Linked DNA regions of Homo sapiens. The protein of the gene in region 2 interacts with the protein of the main gene of each other region in a biochemical or structural test. Each region holds a gene or a part of one and is shown on either strand. Other genes may lie near its edges.

Region 1 (7,336 bases), on a different chromosome or scaffold from region 2:
AATTTTATATAAATGGACTCATACAGTAAGCACTCTTGTGTAACCTTTCCACAAAGCATGTTTTTGAGATACTTCCATATTGTTGTGTGTACCATTAGTTCATTCCTTCTCATTACTGAGTGGTATCCATTGTATTGAATGTATCATGACTTTGTTTCTCTTGACTTAGTAGTTTGTTTACTAACACTATATGTAACTTTGTCAATATACTCTCCAAAAAGGCACATACTTCTTTGGTCTGTTTTCTATAGATTACGTAGAGAAGATAAAGTGGATGAAAAAAGAGAAAATTCCATTAGTTTCTTCTCTACTCTTGCAATTTGGCATCCATCTGAGTGTTATTTACAAAATTCACACACCTAGTGATAGAGCCAGTCATCACAGGCCTGACTCAGAGGGGCTGTTGATTACTTGTCCTACAGACACCGAATAGAAAATCTGTTCCATATTCAGCTTCAGGTGTCCTCTGTGAAGACAGGGAAGAATTAGCTAATACTATCAAAACAAACTTTCCAGATAGTCAAGGTATCAAAAGGCTCCAGAGCCAATATTTCTCCAGGGAGAATAATCTTTCTAATAGTTTGTTTTAATAATCATTTTTATAGTTTCCTTCTAAAACTTTTCCTGGTTCTCCTAATGTCCCACTAAATTTAAAATTAACTCATCATGACTAATCATCAGAGAAATGCAAATTAAAACTACAATGAGGTACCATCTCACACTGGTCAAAATGGCTATTATTAAAAAATCAAGAAATGACAGATTCTGGTGAGGCTGACAAGAAAAGAGTACACATATACACTGTTGGTGGGCATGAAAATTAGTTCAGCCACTGTGGAAAGCAGTTTGGAGATTTCCCAAACAACGTAAAACAGAACTATCATTTGACCCAGAAATCCCATTTCCGTGTATATACCCCCAAAAAAGAAATGATTCTACCAAAATGTCACATGCATGTGTATGTTCCCTACAGCACTATTCACAATAGCAAAGACATGGAATCAACATAGATGCCCACCAATGGTGGACTGGATAAAGAAAATGTGGTACATATACACCATGAAAAAATATGCAACCATAAAAAAGAATGAAATCATGTCCTTTGCAGCAACATGGATGGAGCTGGAGGCCATTGTCCTAAGTGAATTAGCATAGGAACAGAAAACCAAATACCATATGTTCTCACTCGTTGAGTACACATGGACATAAAGATGGGAGCAATGGACACTGGTGACTGCTGGAGTGGGGTGGGGGAGGGAAGAGGAATGAAGACTGAAAGACTGCCTATTGGGTACTGTGCTCACTGCTTGTGTGATAGGCTCATCTGTACCCCAAACCTCAGCATAACACAGTGTTCCCATGTGACAGACCTGCACATGTACCCCCTGAATCTAAAATAAAAGTTGAAATTTTAAAATAAGACACAGAACCATATTAAGATCCACCGAAGTTCAGCATAAGTCAATGCCCCATCAAGTTTTATTTTTTATTTCTACCAGAAGAGTATTTAGCTTTTGTTGCACCACTGTGATTCCAATACACAGTCACCTAAATATTTACCTTCCAAATCCTTTTTACTTTAAACAAGAGAACAAAAATGGATAAAATATGAGCATCAGTGAATCTCTTACCGGCCTCAGATTATAAAATAATTTTACTCAGTGGAAAAATACTTGGTAATAGATCACATGAAAAAAATTAAAGTGAAATTAAAATGTCAGAAAATAAACCCACTGGTTGCTATTTACTTTTTTCTTATTTTTAATAAGAACTCAGTGTATTTTTAAAAAGTTTTTTTTTTTTTGAGACCAAGTCTTGTTATGTTGCCCAGGCTAGTCTCGAACTCCTGGGCTCAGGTGATCCTCCTGTCTCAGCCTCCCAAGTAGCTGGTACTACTAGCATGAGCCACCACACCTGGCCTAAAAATTTTTATAAATATGAAAAAGAATAAAGAAAATCATAATAATCATCAGCATCCTGTCACACAGAAATACCATATTAGCCTGTTCCCTTCTATGCTGTTCTGTGTATATTATATAAGTAACAATGTGATGAATACTTTTATACATCAATCTCTGTCCTACTTTCTAATTATTACACATAGCAGATCCCTGGAAATGTAATTTTTGAGCCTAGGTGCATACACATATGTTACACCTTGTCAAGCTGCTTTCCTGAAATGCTGTACAAGCACCTTATACACGGGAGCAGTGAATGTGCCTGCTTCATCACACCTTCCTCAAGACAGAGTGTTGTGATTTTTAACATTTTTGTGATACCTTATGTGCTTTGCAATTACTTGAGTATCTTTGAAGTTAACATTCCTCGTATGTTTATGAGTTACTTGTATTTCCTCTCTCGTTCACCTCCTTTGCTCATTTATCAGATCTTAATGTTCTTGCATATTAAGACTATTTCTTGACACCTATTTCGCTTGAGTTCACGGAGGCAATAATAATCTCCACTTGAGGAAGGCTGAAAGGAAATGGGCTTGGAAAGTGGAGGAGAGGAGCTAGGCTCAGAGTTGGGTTGGAAATGGTTACACCACTAAGTTTAGATTGGGAGATAAGGTGGGTTAGTGAGTTGTTAGGGTAGGAGGTTGAGACGTTAGGTGGGAGTGAGGGTCGGAGGAGGGGGCGCTTAGTTGATGGTCACGAATTTTGGGAGGTTTCGCCTTTGGCTGGGGGTTGAGTTGGGATCAGGAGGGGTTTGAATCGGGGTTGGGTGCTGGAATGTTATGGGGTAAGGGGGCGTTACAACCTGGGAAGGTAAGTAGGTTGGGGGCAAGCTCCCAGGATTAGGTGGGGTCACGGTGGGAAGGCGCAGTGCGCGCAGCTGCGTCCGCCTGTCGCCCGCCCCAGGGCCCTCTGCACAGCCTGACCATACCTGTTGCTTCAGCTCCTGATTGCGGCGCCGCAGGGCCTGGAGAGGATCTCGCTGTCGTCTCGCCAGCATCTCCCTGGCTGCGGTGCTCTGATTGCTCCAGTTGCCAGGGAAACCAACCGGCGGCGCCAGAAGGTGACGCCATCGATGTGCGCCCGCCTCCCAGCCCCGCCCCGCCCGGGCCGGTCCCGGGAAGGGTCAAATGTTCTCTTGCGGTGGTCATCCCACGCCACCAGGCAGGTCACAGCCGGGGGAGTCACTTTTCCTCGGCAATTCCTAAGGATAGGGGAACGTCCCCCGGCGTCTGAAACTACATTCCCCACAATACATCAATAATAACACCACCTTCTTGCTGGGATACCTGTTTTATGGCATTTGCTTTCTGATACCAATTTTGTAAGCTAATGTTAAGATACAATTTTAGTATCTTAAACTCTTTCATTAACTCCAAGGATAGCTTTCCTATGGAATATATGGTTCTGTTCCATACTGTCACTTCAAAAGGCAGTTTTTAATTCTTTGCCATTTAGGCTACTGAAGTTTCATTTCATTCTAATATTGCACGTTGTCAATTCTGAATTCTGTAAGGATGGTAATTGTTCTACAGCAAATCTATGAGCAAATTATTAGTTCTCATTATGATTCCCAGTTTACATCAACTCTCAGGAAGGTTGTCATGTTTCCCCCATATGGGACTGCATCCCATGAATCCAATTCCAAAACTCCACTACACCAAAATTGAACTTGAATAAGAATGATGATGCTTGGGGCTCACCTTCCAAATGATGGACCCCATTAATACAAATGAATGTTCTTCAGAACAGCCACAGGCCAGGATGAACCATTATTTATGTACTTTTTTCTTCAAGTATAATACATACAGAGAAAAGTCTACAGACTTTGTGTGCAGCTCTGAAAACCCTCCACCCCATAACAGCACCCAGATTATGAAACAGAACATTATCTGCCCACTCACACTCTTCCTGTCTTTCTAGTCCTTGCCTACCCCCAACCTCTCAACCCTCTCACTTCTCTACCACACACCAAAGGTGAACAATATCCTAACTTATAAGAGCACAAACTTGTGTTGCCTTTTTTTGTACTATACAATGAAATTATGCACTGTGTGGTGGCTTCTCCTGTCCTTTAAATATCACATTTGTGAGATGCATCTATACTGTGTGTGTCTGTAGTCTGTTCATTCTCATTGCTGATATTTCACATATGATATACCCTAACATACTGATTCTACTGTTGCTGGGTAAGTGGGCAGTTTCCAGCTTAGGGCTAGTATAAATAGCGCTGCTAAGAACGTCCTGGTGCAAGTCTTCTGGCAAACACATAACACTGCTGAGTCACAGGCATGTTATACGTCAGCTTTAGTAGATACTACTACCTGGTTTCCCAAAATGGTACTAATTTATACCCTATCAGCAGTGTATGAGTTTTTGTTCTTTATGTCCTTGGCAAGATTTGGTATTGTCTGTTTTGTTGTAATTCATGTCTTATTTTGAATTAATTTCTCTATTATGGCTTATGATAATTAGTTCACTTAAATAGTCAAACATAGGATTTCCATTAAAAATCTTTACAACAAATGAGAAAATGCTATAAAATATTTCTAAGTGGATTATTAAATCAATAATTACAGGTGATGAGATGAGCAAAACGAAAAAAATTGCTCTAAAATACAGCTATTACTTATGAAATTCTCAGTCTACAAATAAATTAGAAAAAATTATTCTGCATCTACTTATTTATAGGGATTTCCACATTTTAAATGGAAAAGTTAATAGCATCATGGATACAGTTTAATTCTGTTGGTAAAAATAAACTAATAACCCCCCCTAAATATGTGTGAATATATGAACAATAAGGAAAGGTGCAAAAAAAGTGTATTACTCATTCACCTCAGGTGTGAAGATGTTTGACTTTATACATTTTTGCATCATATTGTTTCGGTTACAAGTATTCATTACTTGCGATTCCTAGATCAGCATCATCACCACCTGGGACCTTGTTAGAAATGCACATTTTCACATTTTCAGCCCCACCACAGTCCTAGGAGAATCAGAATCTGTATTTTAACAATACCCCAGTGTTTCATGTGCACATTCAAGTTTGAGAAGTACCACTGAGGTATTCAGTGTGCTATAAATGATATGATTACTCAGCTAATGATTTTTCACTAATAACTGTAATATTCAGGACAGTCACATTAATACTAGTCATTGCTCCTCTGTAGTTATACCTTGATGCCATTATAAAAAACAACATAACCTAAAACAAGAGAGATCTGCAGTGAGGTAGCCAAAAGAAACTAAAGCAAACCATGGCCAATGTTTCTCCTGAGAGCAAGCTACTTCATAAAACTCATCATGATTTCTATCAGTGTGTTAAAATGAGTAACAATTTTGAATTGCTTCCTCACAGGTCATACTGAAAAAGAATTTAACAGCTTCCAAGAGACTCATAATGTAGACAGAACCAGTGGAACAAGACGACTTGGAATCAATAAAAAGATTATAGCAAAGAGAATAGAGAAAGTGTGCAGTTTTAGGGCCTTAAAAGAAAATTCAGGCTGGGCACGGTGGCTCACGCCTGTAATCCCAACACTTTGGGGAGCCGAGGTGGGTGGATCACCTGAGGTCAGGAGTTTGAGACCAGCCTGGCCAACATGGCGAAACCCTGTCTCTACTAAAAATACAAAAATTAGCCAAGTGTGTTGGCACATGCCTGTAATCCCAGCTACTCAGGAGGCTGAGGCAGGAGAATCACTTGAACCTGGGAGGTGAAGGTTCCAGTGAGCTGAGATCACACCAGTGCACTCCAGCCTGGGCAACAGAGTGAGACTGTGTCTCAAAAAAAAAAAAAAAAAAAAAAAAAAGAAAGAAAGAAAGAAAGAAAAGAAAAGAAAAGAAAACAATCCACCTCAAATAAAAATGACAAATATATACCTTGGTGCAAGGCACTGTTTAGGCCTGTGGTACAAGATGTTTAATACTGCTCTCAAAGAGCTTCCAAGCTACAGTAATAGACTAGAAACATGAAAATTGTACCAACCACTTACCACAGAAGTGCTACCTGGTGTACAGAATTCCCCGCCAAATGAACAGCTTATGATTAAATACACTGAGCTCTACAGTAAGGTCATGCATTGAATATGTCCACTAGACAGCTGAAAGGGTGAAGCTGGAATTGAAGGAAAGGATCAGAGGGAGGGGGCTCTGCTTGGATGTGCTAGTTAAGCCAAGAGAATGGCTAGGGTAATCACAGGAGAGGACAGGGCAGAGAACCAAGGCAAAAGTTTGAGGAACTTGAGAAAGGCAGCAATAGTAGCAGTTTGGAAACTCAATAAACTTTTGTATTAGAGAAGCAAGGGAAGGAGAATTTCAAGGGACAAAGTGGCCTCATCAAATACCCTCAAGGTAAAATGTGAGGATTCAGAAGAGCCATAGATATTAATGTTTCTGGAAGGTGCAGAGGGCAGATCACAGCAGACCAATGGGCAAAATATTTGGAAAGAAAATATTGGCAAATGATAACATCAACTAAAATAAATTTTAAGTCAAAATCCATGCATTTGTTAGCCAGGCATGGTGGCAGGCACCTGTTATCCCAGCTACTCGGGGAGGCTGAGGCACAAGAATCGCTTGAACCCGGGAGGCACAGGTTGCAGTGAGCCAACATCACACCACTGCACTCCAGCCTGGGGGACAGAGTGAGACTCCGTCTCAAAAAAAAAAAAAAAAAAAAAAAGAAAAGAAAAAATATGCATTTGTAAATAGAAAGCAGGCAGAGACTGCAGACGCAACAGAGATGATGTACTGGAGAACAAGAAAGGTCCTGAGGGAGATGCAGAATTCTGCAGAGGCCAAAGAGGAGACAGCCTTGGAAAGGGCCCGTGTGTCTTCTCTCCTGGTAAAGGAAACCTAATGAGACAGAGCTTCAAAAACAGTAGTTTTCAACCTCAGGTGACCATCACAATCACCTGAAGAACTAAAAATTCTAATACCCAGGCCATATTCCAAATGACATGAATCAAAATGTCTGGACAGTGGCATGCAAGAATTAGTATTTTTAAAGCTCCCTAGATGATTATAATGTGTAGCCCTGTTGAAAACTACTGCTCTAGACAAAACTATTGAGTAGGATGAAGGAATTCCCAGCTAACAGCCTTTATCTTCTCATATGGTTGATCTACTAGGAATGAAAGGCATCAAGAAAACTGGGAGTTTCAGGAACTCAGGTGCTAAGAAATGAGACAGATGCAGTCACAATAGAACGAATTTGTAGTGAGCCAAGTGAGAAAGGTGAAGTCTTTCTTTCAAGTTCAGTGGCTCAAAAGAGCAAAAGCAGTGGTGAAGGTAAATGTACAAGAAGGGATGGAGTCTAATCTGACCAGGGAGCCCAGGATGACTTATGAGGTTAACTGGAAGGGTGAGACAACTAA
Region 2 (7,547 bases):
GCCATTCCCCCCATCTCTCCCTTACACTCTAGCCCTGCCTTCCCTCACTCCTTGGAATACACCAAGCTCTTTTGTGCATAGTCAACTTTGCACATTCCCATCCCTCTGCCTGGAAGGCCCTCCCCTGCAATCTCTCTGCCTGGCCAGTTCCTTCTCCATTTTCCAATCTCAGAAAGGCTTTCCCTTCCAAAACTAGGACCAACTTGTGCCACCAGCCCCTACTTTGGTCCCAGGTTTGTTTCCTTGATAACAAGGAATCACTCATCTGTTAGAGGTTGTTTCTTCTGCTTCTTCCTTGTTGCTCATCTCCTCCAGAGGAATGCAAGCTCCAGAAGGGCAGTGCCAGGTCTATTTCGTCCACCACTGTATCATCAGGACTCCACACAGGGCTTAGCATGGCGCAGGTGCTCAATGCATGGTTGTTCAATTGATGAATTAAAAGAGAAAGTGTGAGGCTGACATTGAAAGATGAGGCTGGAAATAGAAGGCCTTGAGAACAGGGTCCTATTCATCTTTGCAGGACTGGCACCTCCCACAGGGAAGCCACTTAGCAAATGTTTCACTGGATGCATGAAAGAAAAACTCGATTCCAGATAAATCTGAGATGTGCTGTCCTTTCTGGGCAAGGCTCCCCAAGAAGTTTCCGCTCCTCCTTAGGACTTCTTAGGAGGTAACATGTCTAGGGCATACAGCAAGTGCTTAATAAATGGGGTGACTGTTACTATTGCTCACGTGGGGATCACTCATGCAGTCTCCTAGAAAAGACCTTCCGGAGCCCATGCCAGATACAGCAGTGGTTGGGTGAAAAAACGGCAGGGAAAAATGAGAACCGAGCAGCAGGATCCAAATACGGCTGAGACCTAGGTGGGGAAATGGCAGGAACAACACTGTCCTAGCTAACTGGGGTTCCCTTCTTTCCTCTAGACTTCAGTCACCTAGGTGCAGCATGGAGATGCCAGCTGGGACGTGAGTCTTCACAAGGGAGGGCTCAATCTGAATGCACACATTCATCTTTGGGCCTGCCAGGCTTGCACTGATTTTGAAAATCTGGCTCGCTGTGGCTGGTGAGGACTGGGGAGGTGTAGAGAATTTCAATTTCCCTCACCAAATGGCAAGCTTGCGAAAAGTCCTTTCTCTCCAACATTATCACATACTAAAAATGAAAAACCAGCCATTCAGAGCTCTCATGAGAAAAATAGATGGGCTGCTTAGCTCACAAGAAACAGGAGGGCTGAAAATCAAGTCTAGAGAACATCAGAGGGTACATTATGTGCTAAGATACTGCCCTTTTTTGGACCTGGGAGTTTCTATTTTGCACAAAAGAATGGGATAGGGAAAGTAATTCCCCGTATAATAAGCCACTCATTTTATACTTCAAATCCATTTGGTAGCTGAATCTCCAAATCCACTTAGTGGCGTTAGGTGATTTTTGTTTTTTTTAACTCCCTATCTCAAAATATGCAGTTTGAAATAAGTGCATATCTCAAAAATAGCAGCATTAACAGGACAGAAGAGAAGGCACTAAAGTGGTGAAGGCTGTGACGCAAAGAAGACGTTTCCAAATCTGTTTCATGGCTAACAGATCAAAATCTAACACAGAAGGGGCATGGGACTGAGCCTGAAGAAGTGGAAACTACTCCTGGCCATGTGATCTTGGGCAAGTCAGGTCACCTTTCTGGGCCTTCTCTGAAGGGGGTGAATCAGTTGTTCTCAAAGATCTTTTTCTTTCCAAACTGTTCACTGGGTGTTTCCAGAAGACCCGCATTTTCTTAAAGCTATCTGGCCGCGCTACAATTGCAAAACAGAAAGGCTTTGGGATGAAGGTTGCAATACAGATAACCCTGGCCTAAAAACTGATAAGCTTTTACAATCCCAAAACATTACTCAGCAATCCAGGTCCTGATGTCATCCCAGAATCAATCACGCCAAGATAACCTAACAGAGTAGACAGGGGAAAATGCGAGAGAAAGTTCTTTTGCTTTCCTGACGAGTACAGGTAAAGTTGAGGTCAAGTTAACGATGATGGTCTGCAGTTGACCATCCTTCTCCCTGAGCTACTGGAAAACCACATTATTAAAGGAAACTGCTTTAGAAGTGCCCAAGATGAACCTCTTGGGATGTATCAAACCGCAGAAAACCGGACACCGGCAAGTTTCTTTTTTCTTTGAAACTTCATGTCGCTCTCAGAAAACGCAGCAGGTCCCAAAATGGTACAAGCAGAAAACACAAGCCACTTCACGGTCCGCCCAGGAGCCAACCCCAAGCTCCAAGTAGGACTCCCCCCACCCCCTTCCCTTTCGTTTCTCTTCTTTTGCTTTAGGCAAGTGGCCTGGGGCCTGCCAAGCAGCGCCGGGTCCGGGTAGGGGCCGGGGGCCGCGGGGAACTTTCCTCGGCTGCACCAGAGACAATGCCGGGAGGGCGCCCCATCGGCGGGGTCCGGGCCGCCAAGCACGTCGTCCCGGGCCCTCCCCCGGAGGGGGACGCGAAACCCCCCAGGGCGGGCCCCGTCCCCGGCCCCACTGCAGGGGCCCCCTCTCCCGAGCTGGAGGCGAGGAGACCTCCCCCCCCCACCGGGCGGCCTCGCCCGGCCCCGCAGAGCCTGGCCGCGCGTCCCGCACACGCCCCAGCCCAGGGCCGGCGCCCTCCCCGCGGAGAAGGACACCCCGCTGCGAGAGGAGCCGGGAGCCCGCCCCGCGCCCCGTCCCGGCGCCCTTCTTCGCGCGAGAGACTGGGCAGGGGGCGCCCGCGACTGTGGGCGACTCCGCCCGGCCCCGCCGAGCGCGCCCGAGCGCCCCGCAACTCACCGGGACCTGGCGGGCCGCTGGGCATTATTCCATCGCGGGTTCGGCCGGGCGCTCGCGGCTCTCGGGTGGGAAAGCGAACTGCGACCGGGAAGCGCCGGCTGGGCGGGAGGCGCGGGCCCGGGGCTGCCCAGCGCACAGTGCTCGCCCGCGGCAGCGGCCAGGCCAGGCGAGGCGCGGGAGCCGAGCGCGGCGCAGGAAGGGGCGGGCGACCATGTGCCGAGGGGGAGGAGGCCGCGGCGACGCGAGCGGCTCGCACGATCCCGCTCGGCGGCGGAGGGCGCGGGTTTCAGGAAATCCAAACACTTCGACAGGAAATCGGAATCCTGACTAAGCATTCCCGGCCCCGAGCCGCTCCGCGCCGGGGGCTCCCGCCTCGCTTAACCCTTGGCCCGCCGGCAGCCACGAGGGGGGCGTGGGAGGGGCCCCAGACCTCGGCCGGGGTCGGGCGTCCTTCGCCTTCCGCCCCATGCCCCGGCCGGCCGGCCTCCTCCCCGCCTGAGGTGGAAGGGGTGGGATTTATCCACAGAAAACCCTGGACGCGGAAGGTGCCTTTCTAAGGCCGGGACAGCGGCAAAGGACGTGCCTGTCTTCCATCTGCAGAGGATGGACCTGCACTGTCCTGGCCGTTACCCCTATTTTCAGTAAAGGAATGATTTCACCAGGCTGCCCCCTTTCACCACTTCCTCTCTGCTCTTATAATTTTATTTTTGCCCAGTGCCAAGGGAACAGGACCTTCCCAGTCAGGATAGTATAGGAACAGTATGGAGAGTAATTGTGTGGGCTGCAGGCTCTGTGTCCGGTTGGAATATGGCCTTTTTTCTACTCATGTTACCTTGAGTAACTCGCTCAACTTTCCTGAGCCTCAGTTTCCATTTATGAAATGGATGTTAATTCCACCCTCATAGGTTTGATCTGGAAGCTGAATGTTTAGACAGGGACTGGCACATTGGAAACGCCCAAATAAATGATAGCCATGCTTGTCCTTATTATTACCATTAAAAGACATCAGAGAAAGGAGGATTTTAATTTGTGGGATGTATATTGTGCATATCTATGTCTACTTTCAAAGTCAGAGACAGTAGTCTTTCTTTAGAACTTAATTTCCCTCCTAATCATTGGGTGATTGTTTTTCTTTGCAGCATTTCAGAAACGGCTCTCTGCAGAGGAAATGGTTAGTGGCTGTGGCAGACCCCCTTCTGGTGAAATCCGAAACAGAAAACCTCACAAAATTTGGGATTTTGCTCCTAATCTGAGAGTCTGGGTGTAGTGGGGAGTGGGGGTTGTTAAACAGTCTGGAGCGGATTTACAAAGTTTGGGAAAACCAAAATCAATCTCTGACTGGGCAGAGAGGTCGGGCAGCCAATGAGTGATTCATTGTGGTTTCCCACGGAAATGCCACATTTCGGGGGTGTCTACCTGGAGGATGCAGCTTGGTGGTTTTGCTGTAAGTGTTTCAGATTCCTTTGAAACCCAATCAGACTTTGAAGAGGGAACAACATGCTCATGAGCGAAAACAGAAGCCTGAAATGAACCTGCTGGGAACTGAAAGTTGGGTACCAGCTCGTTTACTCCAAGTAAGGAACAGATACCAGTTTTAGACCCAGCATTGTTCCTTTTCTGCAATTCTCTCTCCGTGGCCAGAAGCAGTAGGACAGCTCTGAGCTGGGCACCAGGAGTCCCAGGGTCCTGCTCCAGGCCCACTGTAGCTGCCGTCCCCTCTGCCTGGAAGAACCCTTGTATGGCTGTTCTTGGCACGCAGCTCACAGCCCAGAAGTCAGCTCCGCAGATAGGTTTTCCCCAACCATGTGATCTGCTTGTCTCTGGCACCTACACCCCACCTCCACCTCTCCCAAACATAGCGCATCCTGTTTGATTGCTTCATAGCCCTTGTCACTGTTTAATGTAGCCTACATGATTGGTTGCTTATTTTTTATCTGCCCCCCACTCTCCCCACTGCATGGGTAAACTGCATTACAGCAGTACCTTTGCCTGTTTCCTTAGAACAGTGCTGGCCCATATGAGACCATCGATAAACACGTGTTGAATAAATGAAAGAAGCAAACAAACTAGAGTTGCAGATGGGACCTCTGCCTGAGGTAGGGTGGTTCACTCGGTCCCGCAGCTCCCTGTGGCTTCCTCTTTGGTGGAGAGATTCAAAAGGGAACGCCCAGTGCGGTGGAAGGAGCACCAGATGGCTCTATTAGTGCTTCTGGAAAACTAAAACTATAAGTAGGCCAGGCGCGGTGGCTCACGCCTGTAATCCCAGCACTTTGGGAGGCCGAGCAGGTAGATCACCTAAGGTCAGGAGTTTGAGACCAGTCTGGCCAACATGGTGAAACCCCGTGTCTACTAAAAATACAAAAAATTGCCGGGCGTGGTGGTGGGCACCTGTAATCCCAGCTTCTCCAGAGGCTGAGGCAGGAGAATCGCTTGAACCCGGGAGGCAGAGGTTGCAGTGAGCTGAGATCATGCCATTGCATCCCAGACAGGGTGACAGAGTGAGACTCCGTCTCAAAAAAAAAAAAAAAAAAAAAAAAAAAAAAAACCTAAGTAATTAAGACTGTCAAATGAGGTAACTATAGTCTCATTGGTATAGTCCCAGTTAATTACTCCCTCCTTTGTGCTTCCTTGGCATTTCTGTTTAAAGAATATATTTGTCATATTGTATACTCACTAGATGACTGTTCTCCTAAATCAGATGGAGGAAAGGAGTCCACATTTGTTGACCACTTGCTCTGAGTGGGTCCCTGAGCAAGGTGAACTTGAATTCATTTTAAGGCATCGGTTAAGTGCCTGTAATGTGCTAAAAAAATCTGGGCCCTACATGTGCAATGATGAAAAAGAACTATTCTTGCTAAGAAAGACAGGAAAGCTCTATCTAGTAAGCAGAGAGATAAGTACTCTTATAGAGTCATGTCCAGGGTATCCAGGGCTATTCAGAACATTGAAGGTGGAGTAGGGTGGAGATAAGTTGGAAAATGCTTCCAAGAAGTGGGTGCTCTTGAACGAACTTTCAAGGAGGAGATGGGACCTATGTAGCTAGATAAGGGGGCACAGGCCTGCCAACCAGAGTAACAAGCGTGAGTGTTAGTGATGCTCGGCTCCATGTCCCCTGGGCCCACCTCTGAGCTCACCGGCAGCTGCAATGAGCTGCCCTCTGTACAGAGAAACTGTCTATCCAAAGCAGGCCCCCTTTCTCCTCTCTACCAGGAGGCTTTCTCAAGGGCTGTGGGATCTTGCCTAGCCTGGAAGTTTCCAACAGCCCTGGGTCAGTCCTTAACCAAACAGTGGATGAATGTGTCAGCCTCCCCTTCCCTAAGGAAGATCAATTCTCAAATGCTCTCAAGGCAGTTCCTCAGAGGAATTCCCCAGTAGGAATGAGTCCAGTTGCCCCCAGCAGTCACTCCCTCATTAAGTCACTCTTTGATTTTGCCTCTTCTCCCTTCCTTGCCTTACTTTCTCACTTCCTTATTTGTTCTTGGGATCCCAAATAAAGTAACTGCACCCATCTCCTTGTCTCAAGGTATACTTCTGGGGAAACCCAATCCAGAGTAGTGTTCATGCATATATTCACAGATACTGGCTGGGCACTCCCAAGTGCCTGAGTAAAGACTGAGCATGAACACATAATATATGTGGGTGACTCTACCAGGTTCAGCATGATCTGAGAACATGATGCATGTTCAGACATGGAAAACAATGAGACTAAAAAGCCTTACACCATCTTGCAGTTGAGGAAACTGAGGCACAGGAGTGTTGAGTAACTTGCCCAAGGCCAACCACTAGTGAGTAGAGGAGTGTATTAGTCCATTTTCAGGCTTCTGATAAAGACATACGTGAGACTGGGAAATTTACAAAAGAAAGACATTTAATTGGACTTACAGTTCCACGCAGCTGGGGAAGCCTTACAATCACAGCAGAAGACAAGGAGGAGCAAGTCATGTCTTACGTGGATGGCAGCAGGCAAAGAGAGAGAGAGTTTGTGCAGGGGAATGCATATGGGAATTCAAGATGAAATTTGGGTGGGGACACAGCCAAACCATATCAAGGAGCATTGGAGTCCAGGCTCTTCACCACCCTGCACTGTCTTTCTTGCCAGTTCAAGCTGTTGGGAGAGTGAATAATGAGAAGAAGAGAACCAGAGGAGAACCAGGGGGCATGGGAAGAAATTGCTTTTACAAGGAAGGAATGAGCAACATTCACAAATGTCACAGGAAATTTCATCAAGAAAGGACCAGAAAGCAAGTGTTCATTTCATTTGACAATGAGAAGGCTGATAACTTTTACCAGAGCTGTCTCGATGGAGTGGAGGGATTGGAAGCCAGATTGCGGTGGGTTGAGGACGGAGTGGGAGACAGTAAGCGTGGACAACTCTTTTCAGAAATGTAGCTGTCTAGCAAGTGGGAGGTAAGGGTAGAGGCTTCTTTAAAAATGTGTGGGCAGGCAAGCATCTGGGTTGGTAGGTGAGGTTGAGAGGAAGGGATGGTTCATTGATAGAACAGGTACTGAGGATGAGAGGAGATGGGAACTAGAGTGGGTTGGGGGCACGAACCCTGGACTGGAAGAGGCCACCTTGTCTGCTGAAGGAGAGGGCCGAAGGGCAAGGTGCAGAACTCTAAAGTTCCACCATGAACATCCTGAAGTCACAGACCAGGAGCTAGGTGGGTATCTTGAGTTTAGACCCCTGAGTTTAATTCCTTATGAAAATCATGCTCTGGGCTAGGCAAGGTGGCTCATGCCTGT
Region 3 (7,369 bases), on a different chromosome or scaffold from region 2:
TTCTCTCTTCTCTGCCCCAGAGTCCCTGGTGACCCTTCTGGGCTACAGTACTCCTCTCACACAAAGGGGAGTGTGACAGGTGCCCTCTCTGGGGAGCCATCCAGCCTTTTGGTGTTTTCCTCAAGAACCACCTGTACATGGGCCGAAAGCTACACATCCAGGATGCTCCTGTCAATATTGTTCGTTGTAGTGAACGCCTAGGAACAACTTGAGTATTTATCCACAGGGGAAAGAGAAATACTGTAGAGTCGTTACCTGCTGGGATACTCCACAGCAGCTGGAAGGAATGAATGAGGCCTCTATTTTCTATTTCTCATCCTGGGTAGATTTTGACAACTTAATGATAAGATGGGGCAAATATGCTCCTCTGCTATCCCCATTGTCAGAATTGCAGAAAAGTCTCACAATTAGATAGTTTTTTGTTTTGTTTTGTTTTGAGACGGAGTCTCGCTCTGTGGCCCAGGCTAGAGTGCAGTGGCACGATCTCGGCTCACTGCAAGCTCCACCTCCAGGGTTCACGCCATTCTCCTGCCTCAGCCTCCCCAGTAGCTGGGACTACAGGCGCCCGCCACCATGCCCGGCTAATTTTTTGTATTTTTAGTAGAGACGGGGTTTCCCCGTGTTAGCCAGGATGGTCTCGATCTCCTGACCTCGTGATCCGCCCGGCTCAGCCTCCCAAAGTGCTGGGATTACAGGCGTGAGCCCCCGCGTCCGGGCTTTTTTTTTTTTTTTTTTTTTTTTTTTTTTTTTTTTTTTTTTTTTTTTTAGGTGGAGTTTCGCTTTTGTTGTCCAGGCTGGAGTGCAATGGCGCGATCTCGGCTCACTGCGACTTCTGCTTCCCCGGGTTCAAGCGATTCTCCTGCCTCAGCCTCCCGAGTAGCTGGGATTACAGGCATGAACCACTGCATAGATAGCATTTTTAAAGCACACAAAACAATCCTACGTGTTGTTTATGCGTACATTTATATGCAATCCATTTTCAGAGGCACATCCTGGAAGGACTGTAACTCATGACAGCGGTTGCCCCTGGGGAGGGAGAGAAACAGGACTGAGAGTGATACAAGGTGGGGAGACTTCAATTTTTTCTGTTACTTTTAGTAAATTAATTTTTTAAAATCTCAAAACAAACACAACAAAATGCTATTATTTGTTAATTCTGGATGGTGGATTCTCGGGACATCTAATATATTATTATCTTCACTTTTCTGTATTTTAACCTGTCACCCCCTCCCCTAAAAAAAAAAGGACCATAAAGAGAAAACCATGGGATAAGGCAACTGATAGGCATTGAGGCCTTTCTCTGTGCCAGGCATAGGCTACCCCAGTGGTTCTCAAAGTGTCCTCCTTGGATCAGCAGCAGCAGCATCACCGGGGATGGAAGTTCTCATTGTCCTGCACAGAGCTACTGAATCAGAAACTCTAGGATTCGGCCCAGCAATCTGTTTTCACAAGCAGTCCAGGTGATGCTGATGTAGGCTAAAGTCTGAGAACACGGGGCCATATGTCTAGCTAGGGCAATGTTAACATACATTAAGCCTGTGTACTGTCAGACAGCATTCTCAAAGCTTTCCTTCAGTAACTTTTTTTTTTTTTTTTTTTTTTTTGAGACAGAGTCTCTCTCTGTCGCCCAGGCTGGAGTGCAGTGGCGCGATCTCGGCTCACCGCAACCTCCACCTCCCAGGTTCAAGTGATTCTCGTGCCTCAGCCTCCCGAGTAGCTGGGATTAAAGGTGTGTGCTACTACGCCCGGCTAATTTTTGTACTTTTAGTAGAGACGGGGTTTCACCATGTTGGCCAGGCTGGTCTCAAACTCTAGACCTCAAGAGATCCACCTGCCTCGGCCTCCCAAAAAGCTGAGATTACAGGCGTGTGCCACCCTGCCCGGCCCCTTCAGTACCCAATTAATCCTCTAAACAACCCTGTGAAGGAGGTACTATTACTCTCCCCATCCTGCAGTTGTGAAAACAGAGGCAAAGAAAGGCCAAATCCTCTACCCCAGCCCCAACAGGCAGTTTGCCCCTAGAAGCCCCCTCCGCTACCCACTAGCCTGTCTCTCACACGCACCACCTCTCGCATACTCCAATTTCCTGCATCCTTGCAAGAAAGACTTCATAGCCCCGTTTTACAGATGAGGAAACGAATTCGGAGGCGGAGAATTCGTCCAAGGAGGAAAGAGACAGGGCATGCATGCAGTGTGGTCTGGGGCCAGGAGGTTTGGGGGTTTGACCTAGACCTGTTGTGGGAGGAGGGGCAGAGAGCCGACCAGCTGCAGCCGGCCTGGGTGTGGCTCGCACGTCACGCCTCCGCCCAACTACCCCCTTCCCCAAGCTGGCTGCCAACCCGGCGTGACCCGGCCCCCACCGGGAACCGTAAGGGCCTTCCCCTTCCCGGGTTCTGTGAAGCCCCATCCCTTCCTTCTTTTTCTTTTTTAAATTAAAAAAAAAATCCCCGCCCCCCCCCAAGAAGGGGAACCTGGACGGCCCAGAGAAGTGGTGGATAAAGTCACTGCACGGGCCCGAGCGTCCCCTTCCCCGGGAATCCAGCAGTCCGCAACAGTGCCGCCCCTCCCTAGGGCACCCTCCACTCGCTGTCGACCCCTCATCCCCCGGGCTACCCGCGGCTCCCCCGACGTTCCGTCTCCCCTCGCTGCCCCCAGCCGCACCCGTAGCCAGCCCTCCCCAGGCTCCTGGGCTCCCTCCGCCTCCTGGGACCCCTCGCGGGCCGGGTATTCCCGGTCCCCTGTGCGCGGCACTCACCTGGGCGCCCGCTCCTCGTCTCGCGGGCAGCCCGGATCCTCGCAGCTTGAGCGCCCCCCCAGCTCGGCAGCCCCTGAGGTTCCGGGGTGCCAGTGCCGGGAAACTGACTTTCTAGAACTAGAGGCGGGGGCGACGCTCTGAGGGGCTTTGGTGCCGCGGGCGTTTCTCGTCCTGCACTGTCTGAGTCCCTTCCCACTCGCCTCTAAGCCTCTGATGTGCTCCCGAGCTGGGACCAGGGACGTGGTGGCGCCCGCAGGCCATCTGGGCGCCTTAGCCGCGCCCTGAGCGAGGCTAACTCCGCCCCAAGTGTCCTAACACCTCCCCGAAGATTCAGACGCCACCCCAGGATCCTAACCGGCTCCCCGAGGGTCATAACCTCCGTCTCCTGCAAGAAGGATCCCAAACCCTCCACGAAGAGAAAAAAAATATTAGCACCATCCATAGGAGGCTTCTAACGCGTCCACCAAGGATGCGAACCCCCATCCCTTCCGCTCCACTTTCCCTAACACCTCCCCATCCCACCGCCCAGCGTCCTACCCCAGTCTCCAAAGGATCCCAAATCCCACTCCTAGGGATTCGAACCCGCCCGTCTAAGAACCCCAGCACCCGCTCCAAGGCTCCCAAGATACTAACCCCGCCCCGCCAAAGGATTTTTAATCCCACCTCTGAAGGATTTTTAAACTCAACTTGCCCCCAAAGATTCTAATCTGCCCAGTGGAAGGATCCGAACTCTCACTTCAGTGGATTCTAACCCTGCCCTAAGATTTAGAACACAAACCCCAGGGTTCCAATACCGCTCCTGCTCCTGCGCGATCTAACCTCCCGCCGCCTAAGAGTTTTAATACCCAGGGGTCTATACCGCCGGTCCAAAGATTCCAACCCTGCCCTTCAGAGATCCTAACCCCACCTATCAAGGGATTCCTGCCACAGTCTTCAAAGATTCCAACCCACCCTGGAAAGGCCTTACCCTACCCCGGAAGCATCGTGATCTCTTTTCCCCACCACTCCGACCCCTCCCTTCTGGCCCGGCCCTCCCCAACTCCGCGGCCCGAGACTTCCAGGCAGGTCTGTGGTCAGCGGTTTCTCTTCCGCAGGCCTGCTCCATTCAGACACCATGCAAAGTTCCTCTCTCGAAGGAACCACCATGGCCATGCAAAGTTCCCTGCCCGAAGGAACCACCCTGGCTTCCTGGCAGCTCAGAGGACTCCCAAGCTGGGGGAGGTGGTCGGGGGAGGGGAGGAGTCGGGCTGGAGGGTGACTGAGGCCCCAAGTGGATGGGATTGTGCCCAGCTCCAGGCAAGGGCAGAACACACCCTCTCCTGGAAAAGACAGGGGCTATCACCCTAAATGCTGTGTAACACACCTCCAAAATCTCCAAAACTACAAGAATTCTACCGCGTCTCTCTATTCCCGTTGCTACCAGCTGATCAGGACCACAGTCATTTCTTCATTCATTCATTCATAATTCATTCAGCAAAGCTGTCCTGGGGGCTGGGGAATGCAGGGGTTCTTAAATTTGGCACTATTGACATTTGGGCCAGGTAATTCTTTGTTGCGGGGGACTGTCCTGTGAATGATAGGATGTTTAACAGCATTCCTGGGCTCTACCCACTAGTTGTCTATAGCATCCTCCTCCCTAGTTGTGACAACAAAATGTCTCCAGACATTTGTAAAATGTCCCCTGGTGGGGAAGGGGGGAAGAACCATGAATGAGAAAGACAATGACCCTACTCTTATGTTTTTGGTATATGTACCTGTATGGGCCTTTTTTCCTTCTCTTTAGCCTACAGTGCTAACTATTTTGAGGGGGTCTCCCATCCAAGTACTAACCAGGCTTGATCCTGCTTAGCTTCCAAGATCAGACAAGATCAGATGTGTTCGGTGTGGTATGGCATAGACAACTTAAAAAAAAATAGAGATGGGGTCTTGCTGTATTGCCCAGGCTAGTCTTGAACTCCGGGGCTCAACTGAACCTCCTGCCTTGGCCTCCCAAAGTACTGGGATTATAGGTGTGAGTCATTGCACCTAGTCTGTATGTGCTTTTTATAAAAACAGATAATGTTCTGAATGTATGTTTAATGTTACTTATTCACTTTTGTACATTCCCTCCCGCCACCCCCATCACTGTTGTTAATATCCAGCCATGTTGCCAAAGGTAGCGGCTGTACGTGTAGTCACTGTTTACATCCTTCACATTTTATTTATCCATTCTCCTAGTCATGGACACCTAGATTGCACACAATTTCCCACTAGTGTAAATAGTGCCACAGTGGACATCCTCATACACGTCCCCTTATCGTCCTACATTAGAATTTTGTTAAGTACTTGCTTTGCCAAGAATGACAGGTGTTTGCAGAATCGCCACTGCCCCACTCTTTCTCCCATCATTTCCCCTTATCTTTACCAACCCTTGGTATTATCCACTGGTCTTAATTTGAGTTCCCCAGAAGCAGACCCTGGACATGGATCCAAGTGAAAATAGTTTATTTAGGAGATGCAGAAGACACTGGTAGGGGAGTAGGTGGATGAGACAGGGAAGGGAGGGAAGCCAGTAAAAAGGAATATCATGAAGCCAGTTACCATTGTGGGCAACTGGAGTTCAATTCTGCAGGGATCTCTGGAGATATACCCACTTCAGGGTTACTCCACCTGTCAGGCGAGGGAGCTGGGGCATTTACACACCAACTCCTGTTGGACACCGGATGAGGGGTACTCCAGGGGTACTGACCTTCCAGCATTTTGGCCTCCCTGGTGCATGCTTCAGCCACCAGAGGGTCTCCAGGAAGAGAAGTGCAGCTCTTACTTAAGGCCCAGGGGGCATCGGAGGGTCCGCATTAGCATCAGCTACATCTCCTTTCAAAAGTTTGCCATTCTGATAGTAAAGAGCCAGAGAGCTGACACATGTTCCTGTTCATGGACAGTTTCCCAAATGTTTTGTCCTGACAGTAATGCTGTAATTGAAATCCTTGTGTATGTTCCCAAAGCTTCTGTCAACTTTATCGTGACATAATTTCGTGAATAAAATCTACCATCATAAATATTCAGCTTGATGAGTTTTGGCAAATATATATACCTGTGTAACCACCACCCCAATCAAGATATAGAACATTTCTATCACCCCAAAAAGTTCCCTTATGTCCTATTGCAGTCAACTCCTCCCACACTTAGGTAGCCTTAGGTAAGCACCAATTGGCTTTTTGCCATTATACATTAGCTTTGTCTTTTCTAGAATTTCTCATAAATGCAGTCATACAGTATGTTTCTTTTGTGTTTGTCTTCTTTTACTCAGAGATTTTCCATGTTGTTGCATGTTCCAGTAGTTCGTTCATTTTTACTGCTGAGTAGTATTCCATAGTATAGATGTAACACTATTTGTTTATCCATTTATTTGTTGAGAGACATTTGGGTTGTTTTCAATTTGGGGCTATATAAATAAAGCTGCTATAAATATTTATGTACAAGTTTTTGTGTAGGCATATTTTTATTTCTCTCGGGTAAATACTTAGGATTGGAATTGCTGGGTCATATAGCAAGTGTGTGTCTAACTTGCAATAAATTGCTGAATTGTTTTTCTTTTTTTTTTTTTTTTGAGGCAGGGTCTTGCTCTGTCACCCAGGCTGGAGTGCAATGGCGAGATCTTGGCTCATTTTAACCTCTGTCTCCTGAGCTCAAGTGATCCTCCCACCTCAGCCTCTGAGTAGCTGGGACTACAGGTACACCACCATGCCCAGCTTATTTTTTTTTTTTTTGTAGAGATACAGTCTCACCGTGTTGCCCAGGCTGGTCTTGAACTCCTGTGCTCAAGCCATCTGCCTGCCTCAGCCTCCCAAAGTGCTGGGATTACAGGTGTGAGCCTTTGTGCCTGGTCTAAATTGGTTTTTGAAGTGGTTACACCATTTTGCATTCCCTCCAGTGATTTATGATTTCCAATTGCTCCACATCCTTGCCAACATTTGGCATTATCATTCTTTTCAATTAAAAAAAGTTCCCATCTAACCCATATTTGCACCAAATAACATTTATACAATTACAAATTGTATTCTAAAACACCCCCTTACCAGTCTTTGGGGGTGGCAAACATTTTGTCTACTCAATTATTCATTCATTCATTGTCATGGAGACTATAGCTGACCACAAAAGTGGTGCTAAGGGCCAGGTGTGGTGGCTTACACCTGTAATCCCAGGACATTGGGAGGCCAAGGTGGGCAGATCACCTGAGGTCAGGAGTTCGAGACCAGCCTGGCCAACATGGTGAAACTCCGTCTCTACTAAAAATACAAAAATTAGCCGGGTGTGGTAGTGGGTGCCTGTAATCCCAGCTACTTGGGAGGCTGAGGCAGGAGAATTGCTTGAACCTGGGAGACGGAGGCTGCAGACAGCCGAGATCGTACCACTGTACTCCAGCCTGGGGGACAAAGCAAAACTCCTCAAAAAAAAACAAAAACAAAAACAAAAACAAAAACAAAAGACTGGTGCTAAATGCTCCATCGTAGGAGTCCAACTAGAGTTCAAACCTGGCACTGCTGTTATCAACTGGGTAATGTTGTACAAAGAGGTGACTTGATTGTCACCTCTTTGAGTCTCAGTTTCCTCATCTGTCAAGTCGGAATAATA

Evidence for each region. The genes of interacting proteins can lie anywhere in the genome.
Region 1: the proteins of ASAP1 (region 2) and NPHP1 form a complex in vitro, tested with the Homo sapiens proteins (one study listed by IntAct).
Region 3: the proteins of ASAP1 (region 2) and HCK form a complex in vitro, tested with the Homo sapiens proteins (one study listed by IntAct).

What each region holds. Positions count from the first base shown.
Region 1 is NC_000002.12:110,202,014-110,209,349, forward strand, and holds the start of NPHP1 (nephrocystin-1), read right to left. Parts: upstream 3,001-7,336; 5' UTR 2,956-3,000; coding exon 2,887-2,955; intron 1-2,886. UniProt on the Homo sapiens protein: Together with BCAR1 it may play a role in the control of epithelial cell polarity. Involved in the organization of apical junctions in kidney cells together with NPHP4 and RPGRIP1L/NPHP8. Does not seem to be strictly required for ciliogenesis.
Region 2 is NC_000008.11:130,440,656-130,448,202, forward strand, and holds the start of ASAP1 (arf-GAP with SH3 domain, ANK repeat and PH domain-containing protein 1), read right to left. Parts: upstream 3,020-7,547; 5' UTR 2,805-3,019; intron 1-2,804. UniProt on the Homo sapiens protein: Possesses phosphatidylinositol 4,5-bisphosphate-dependent GTPase-activating protein activity for ARF1 (ADP ribosylation factor 1) and ARF5 and a lesser activity towards ARF6.
Region 3 is NC_000020.11:32,047,873-32,055,241, reverse strand, and holds the start of HCK (tyrosine-protein kinase HCK), read right to left. Parts: upstream 3,001-7,369; 5' UTR 2,818-3,000; coding exon 2,756-2,817; intron 1,027-2,755; exon of another isoform or gene 963-1,026; coding exon of another isoform or gene 961-962; intron 1-960. UniProt on the Homo sapiens protein: Non-receptor tyrosine-protein kinase found in hematopoietic cells that transmits signals from cell surface receptors and plays an important role in the regulation of innate immune responses, including neutrophil, monocyte, macrophage and mast cell functions, phagocytosis, cell survival and proliferation, cell adhesion and migration.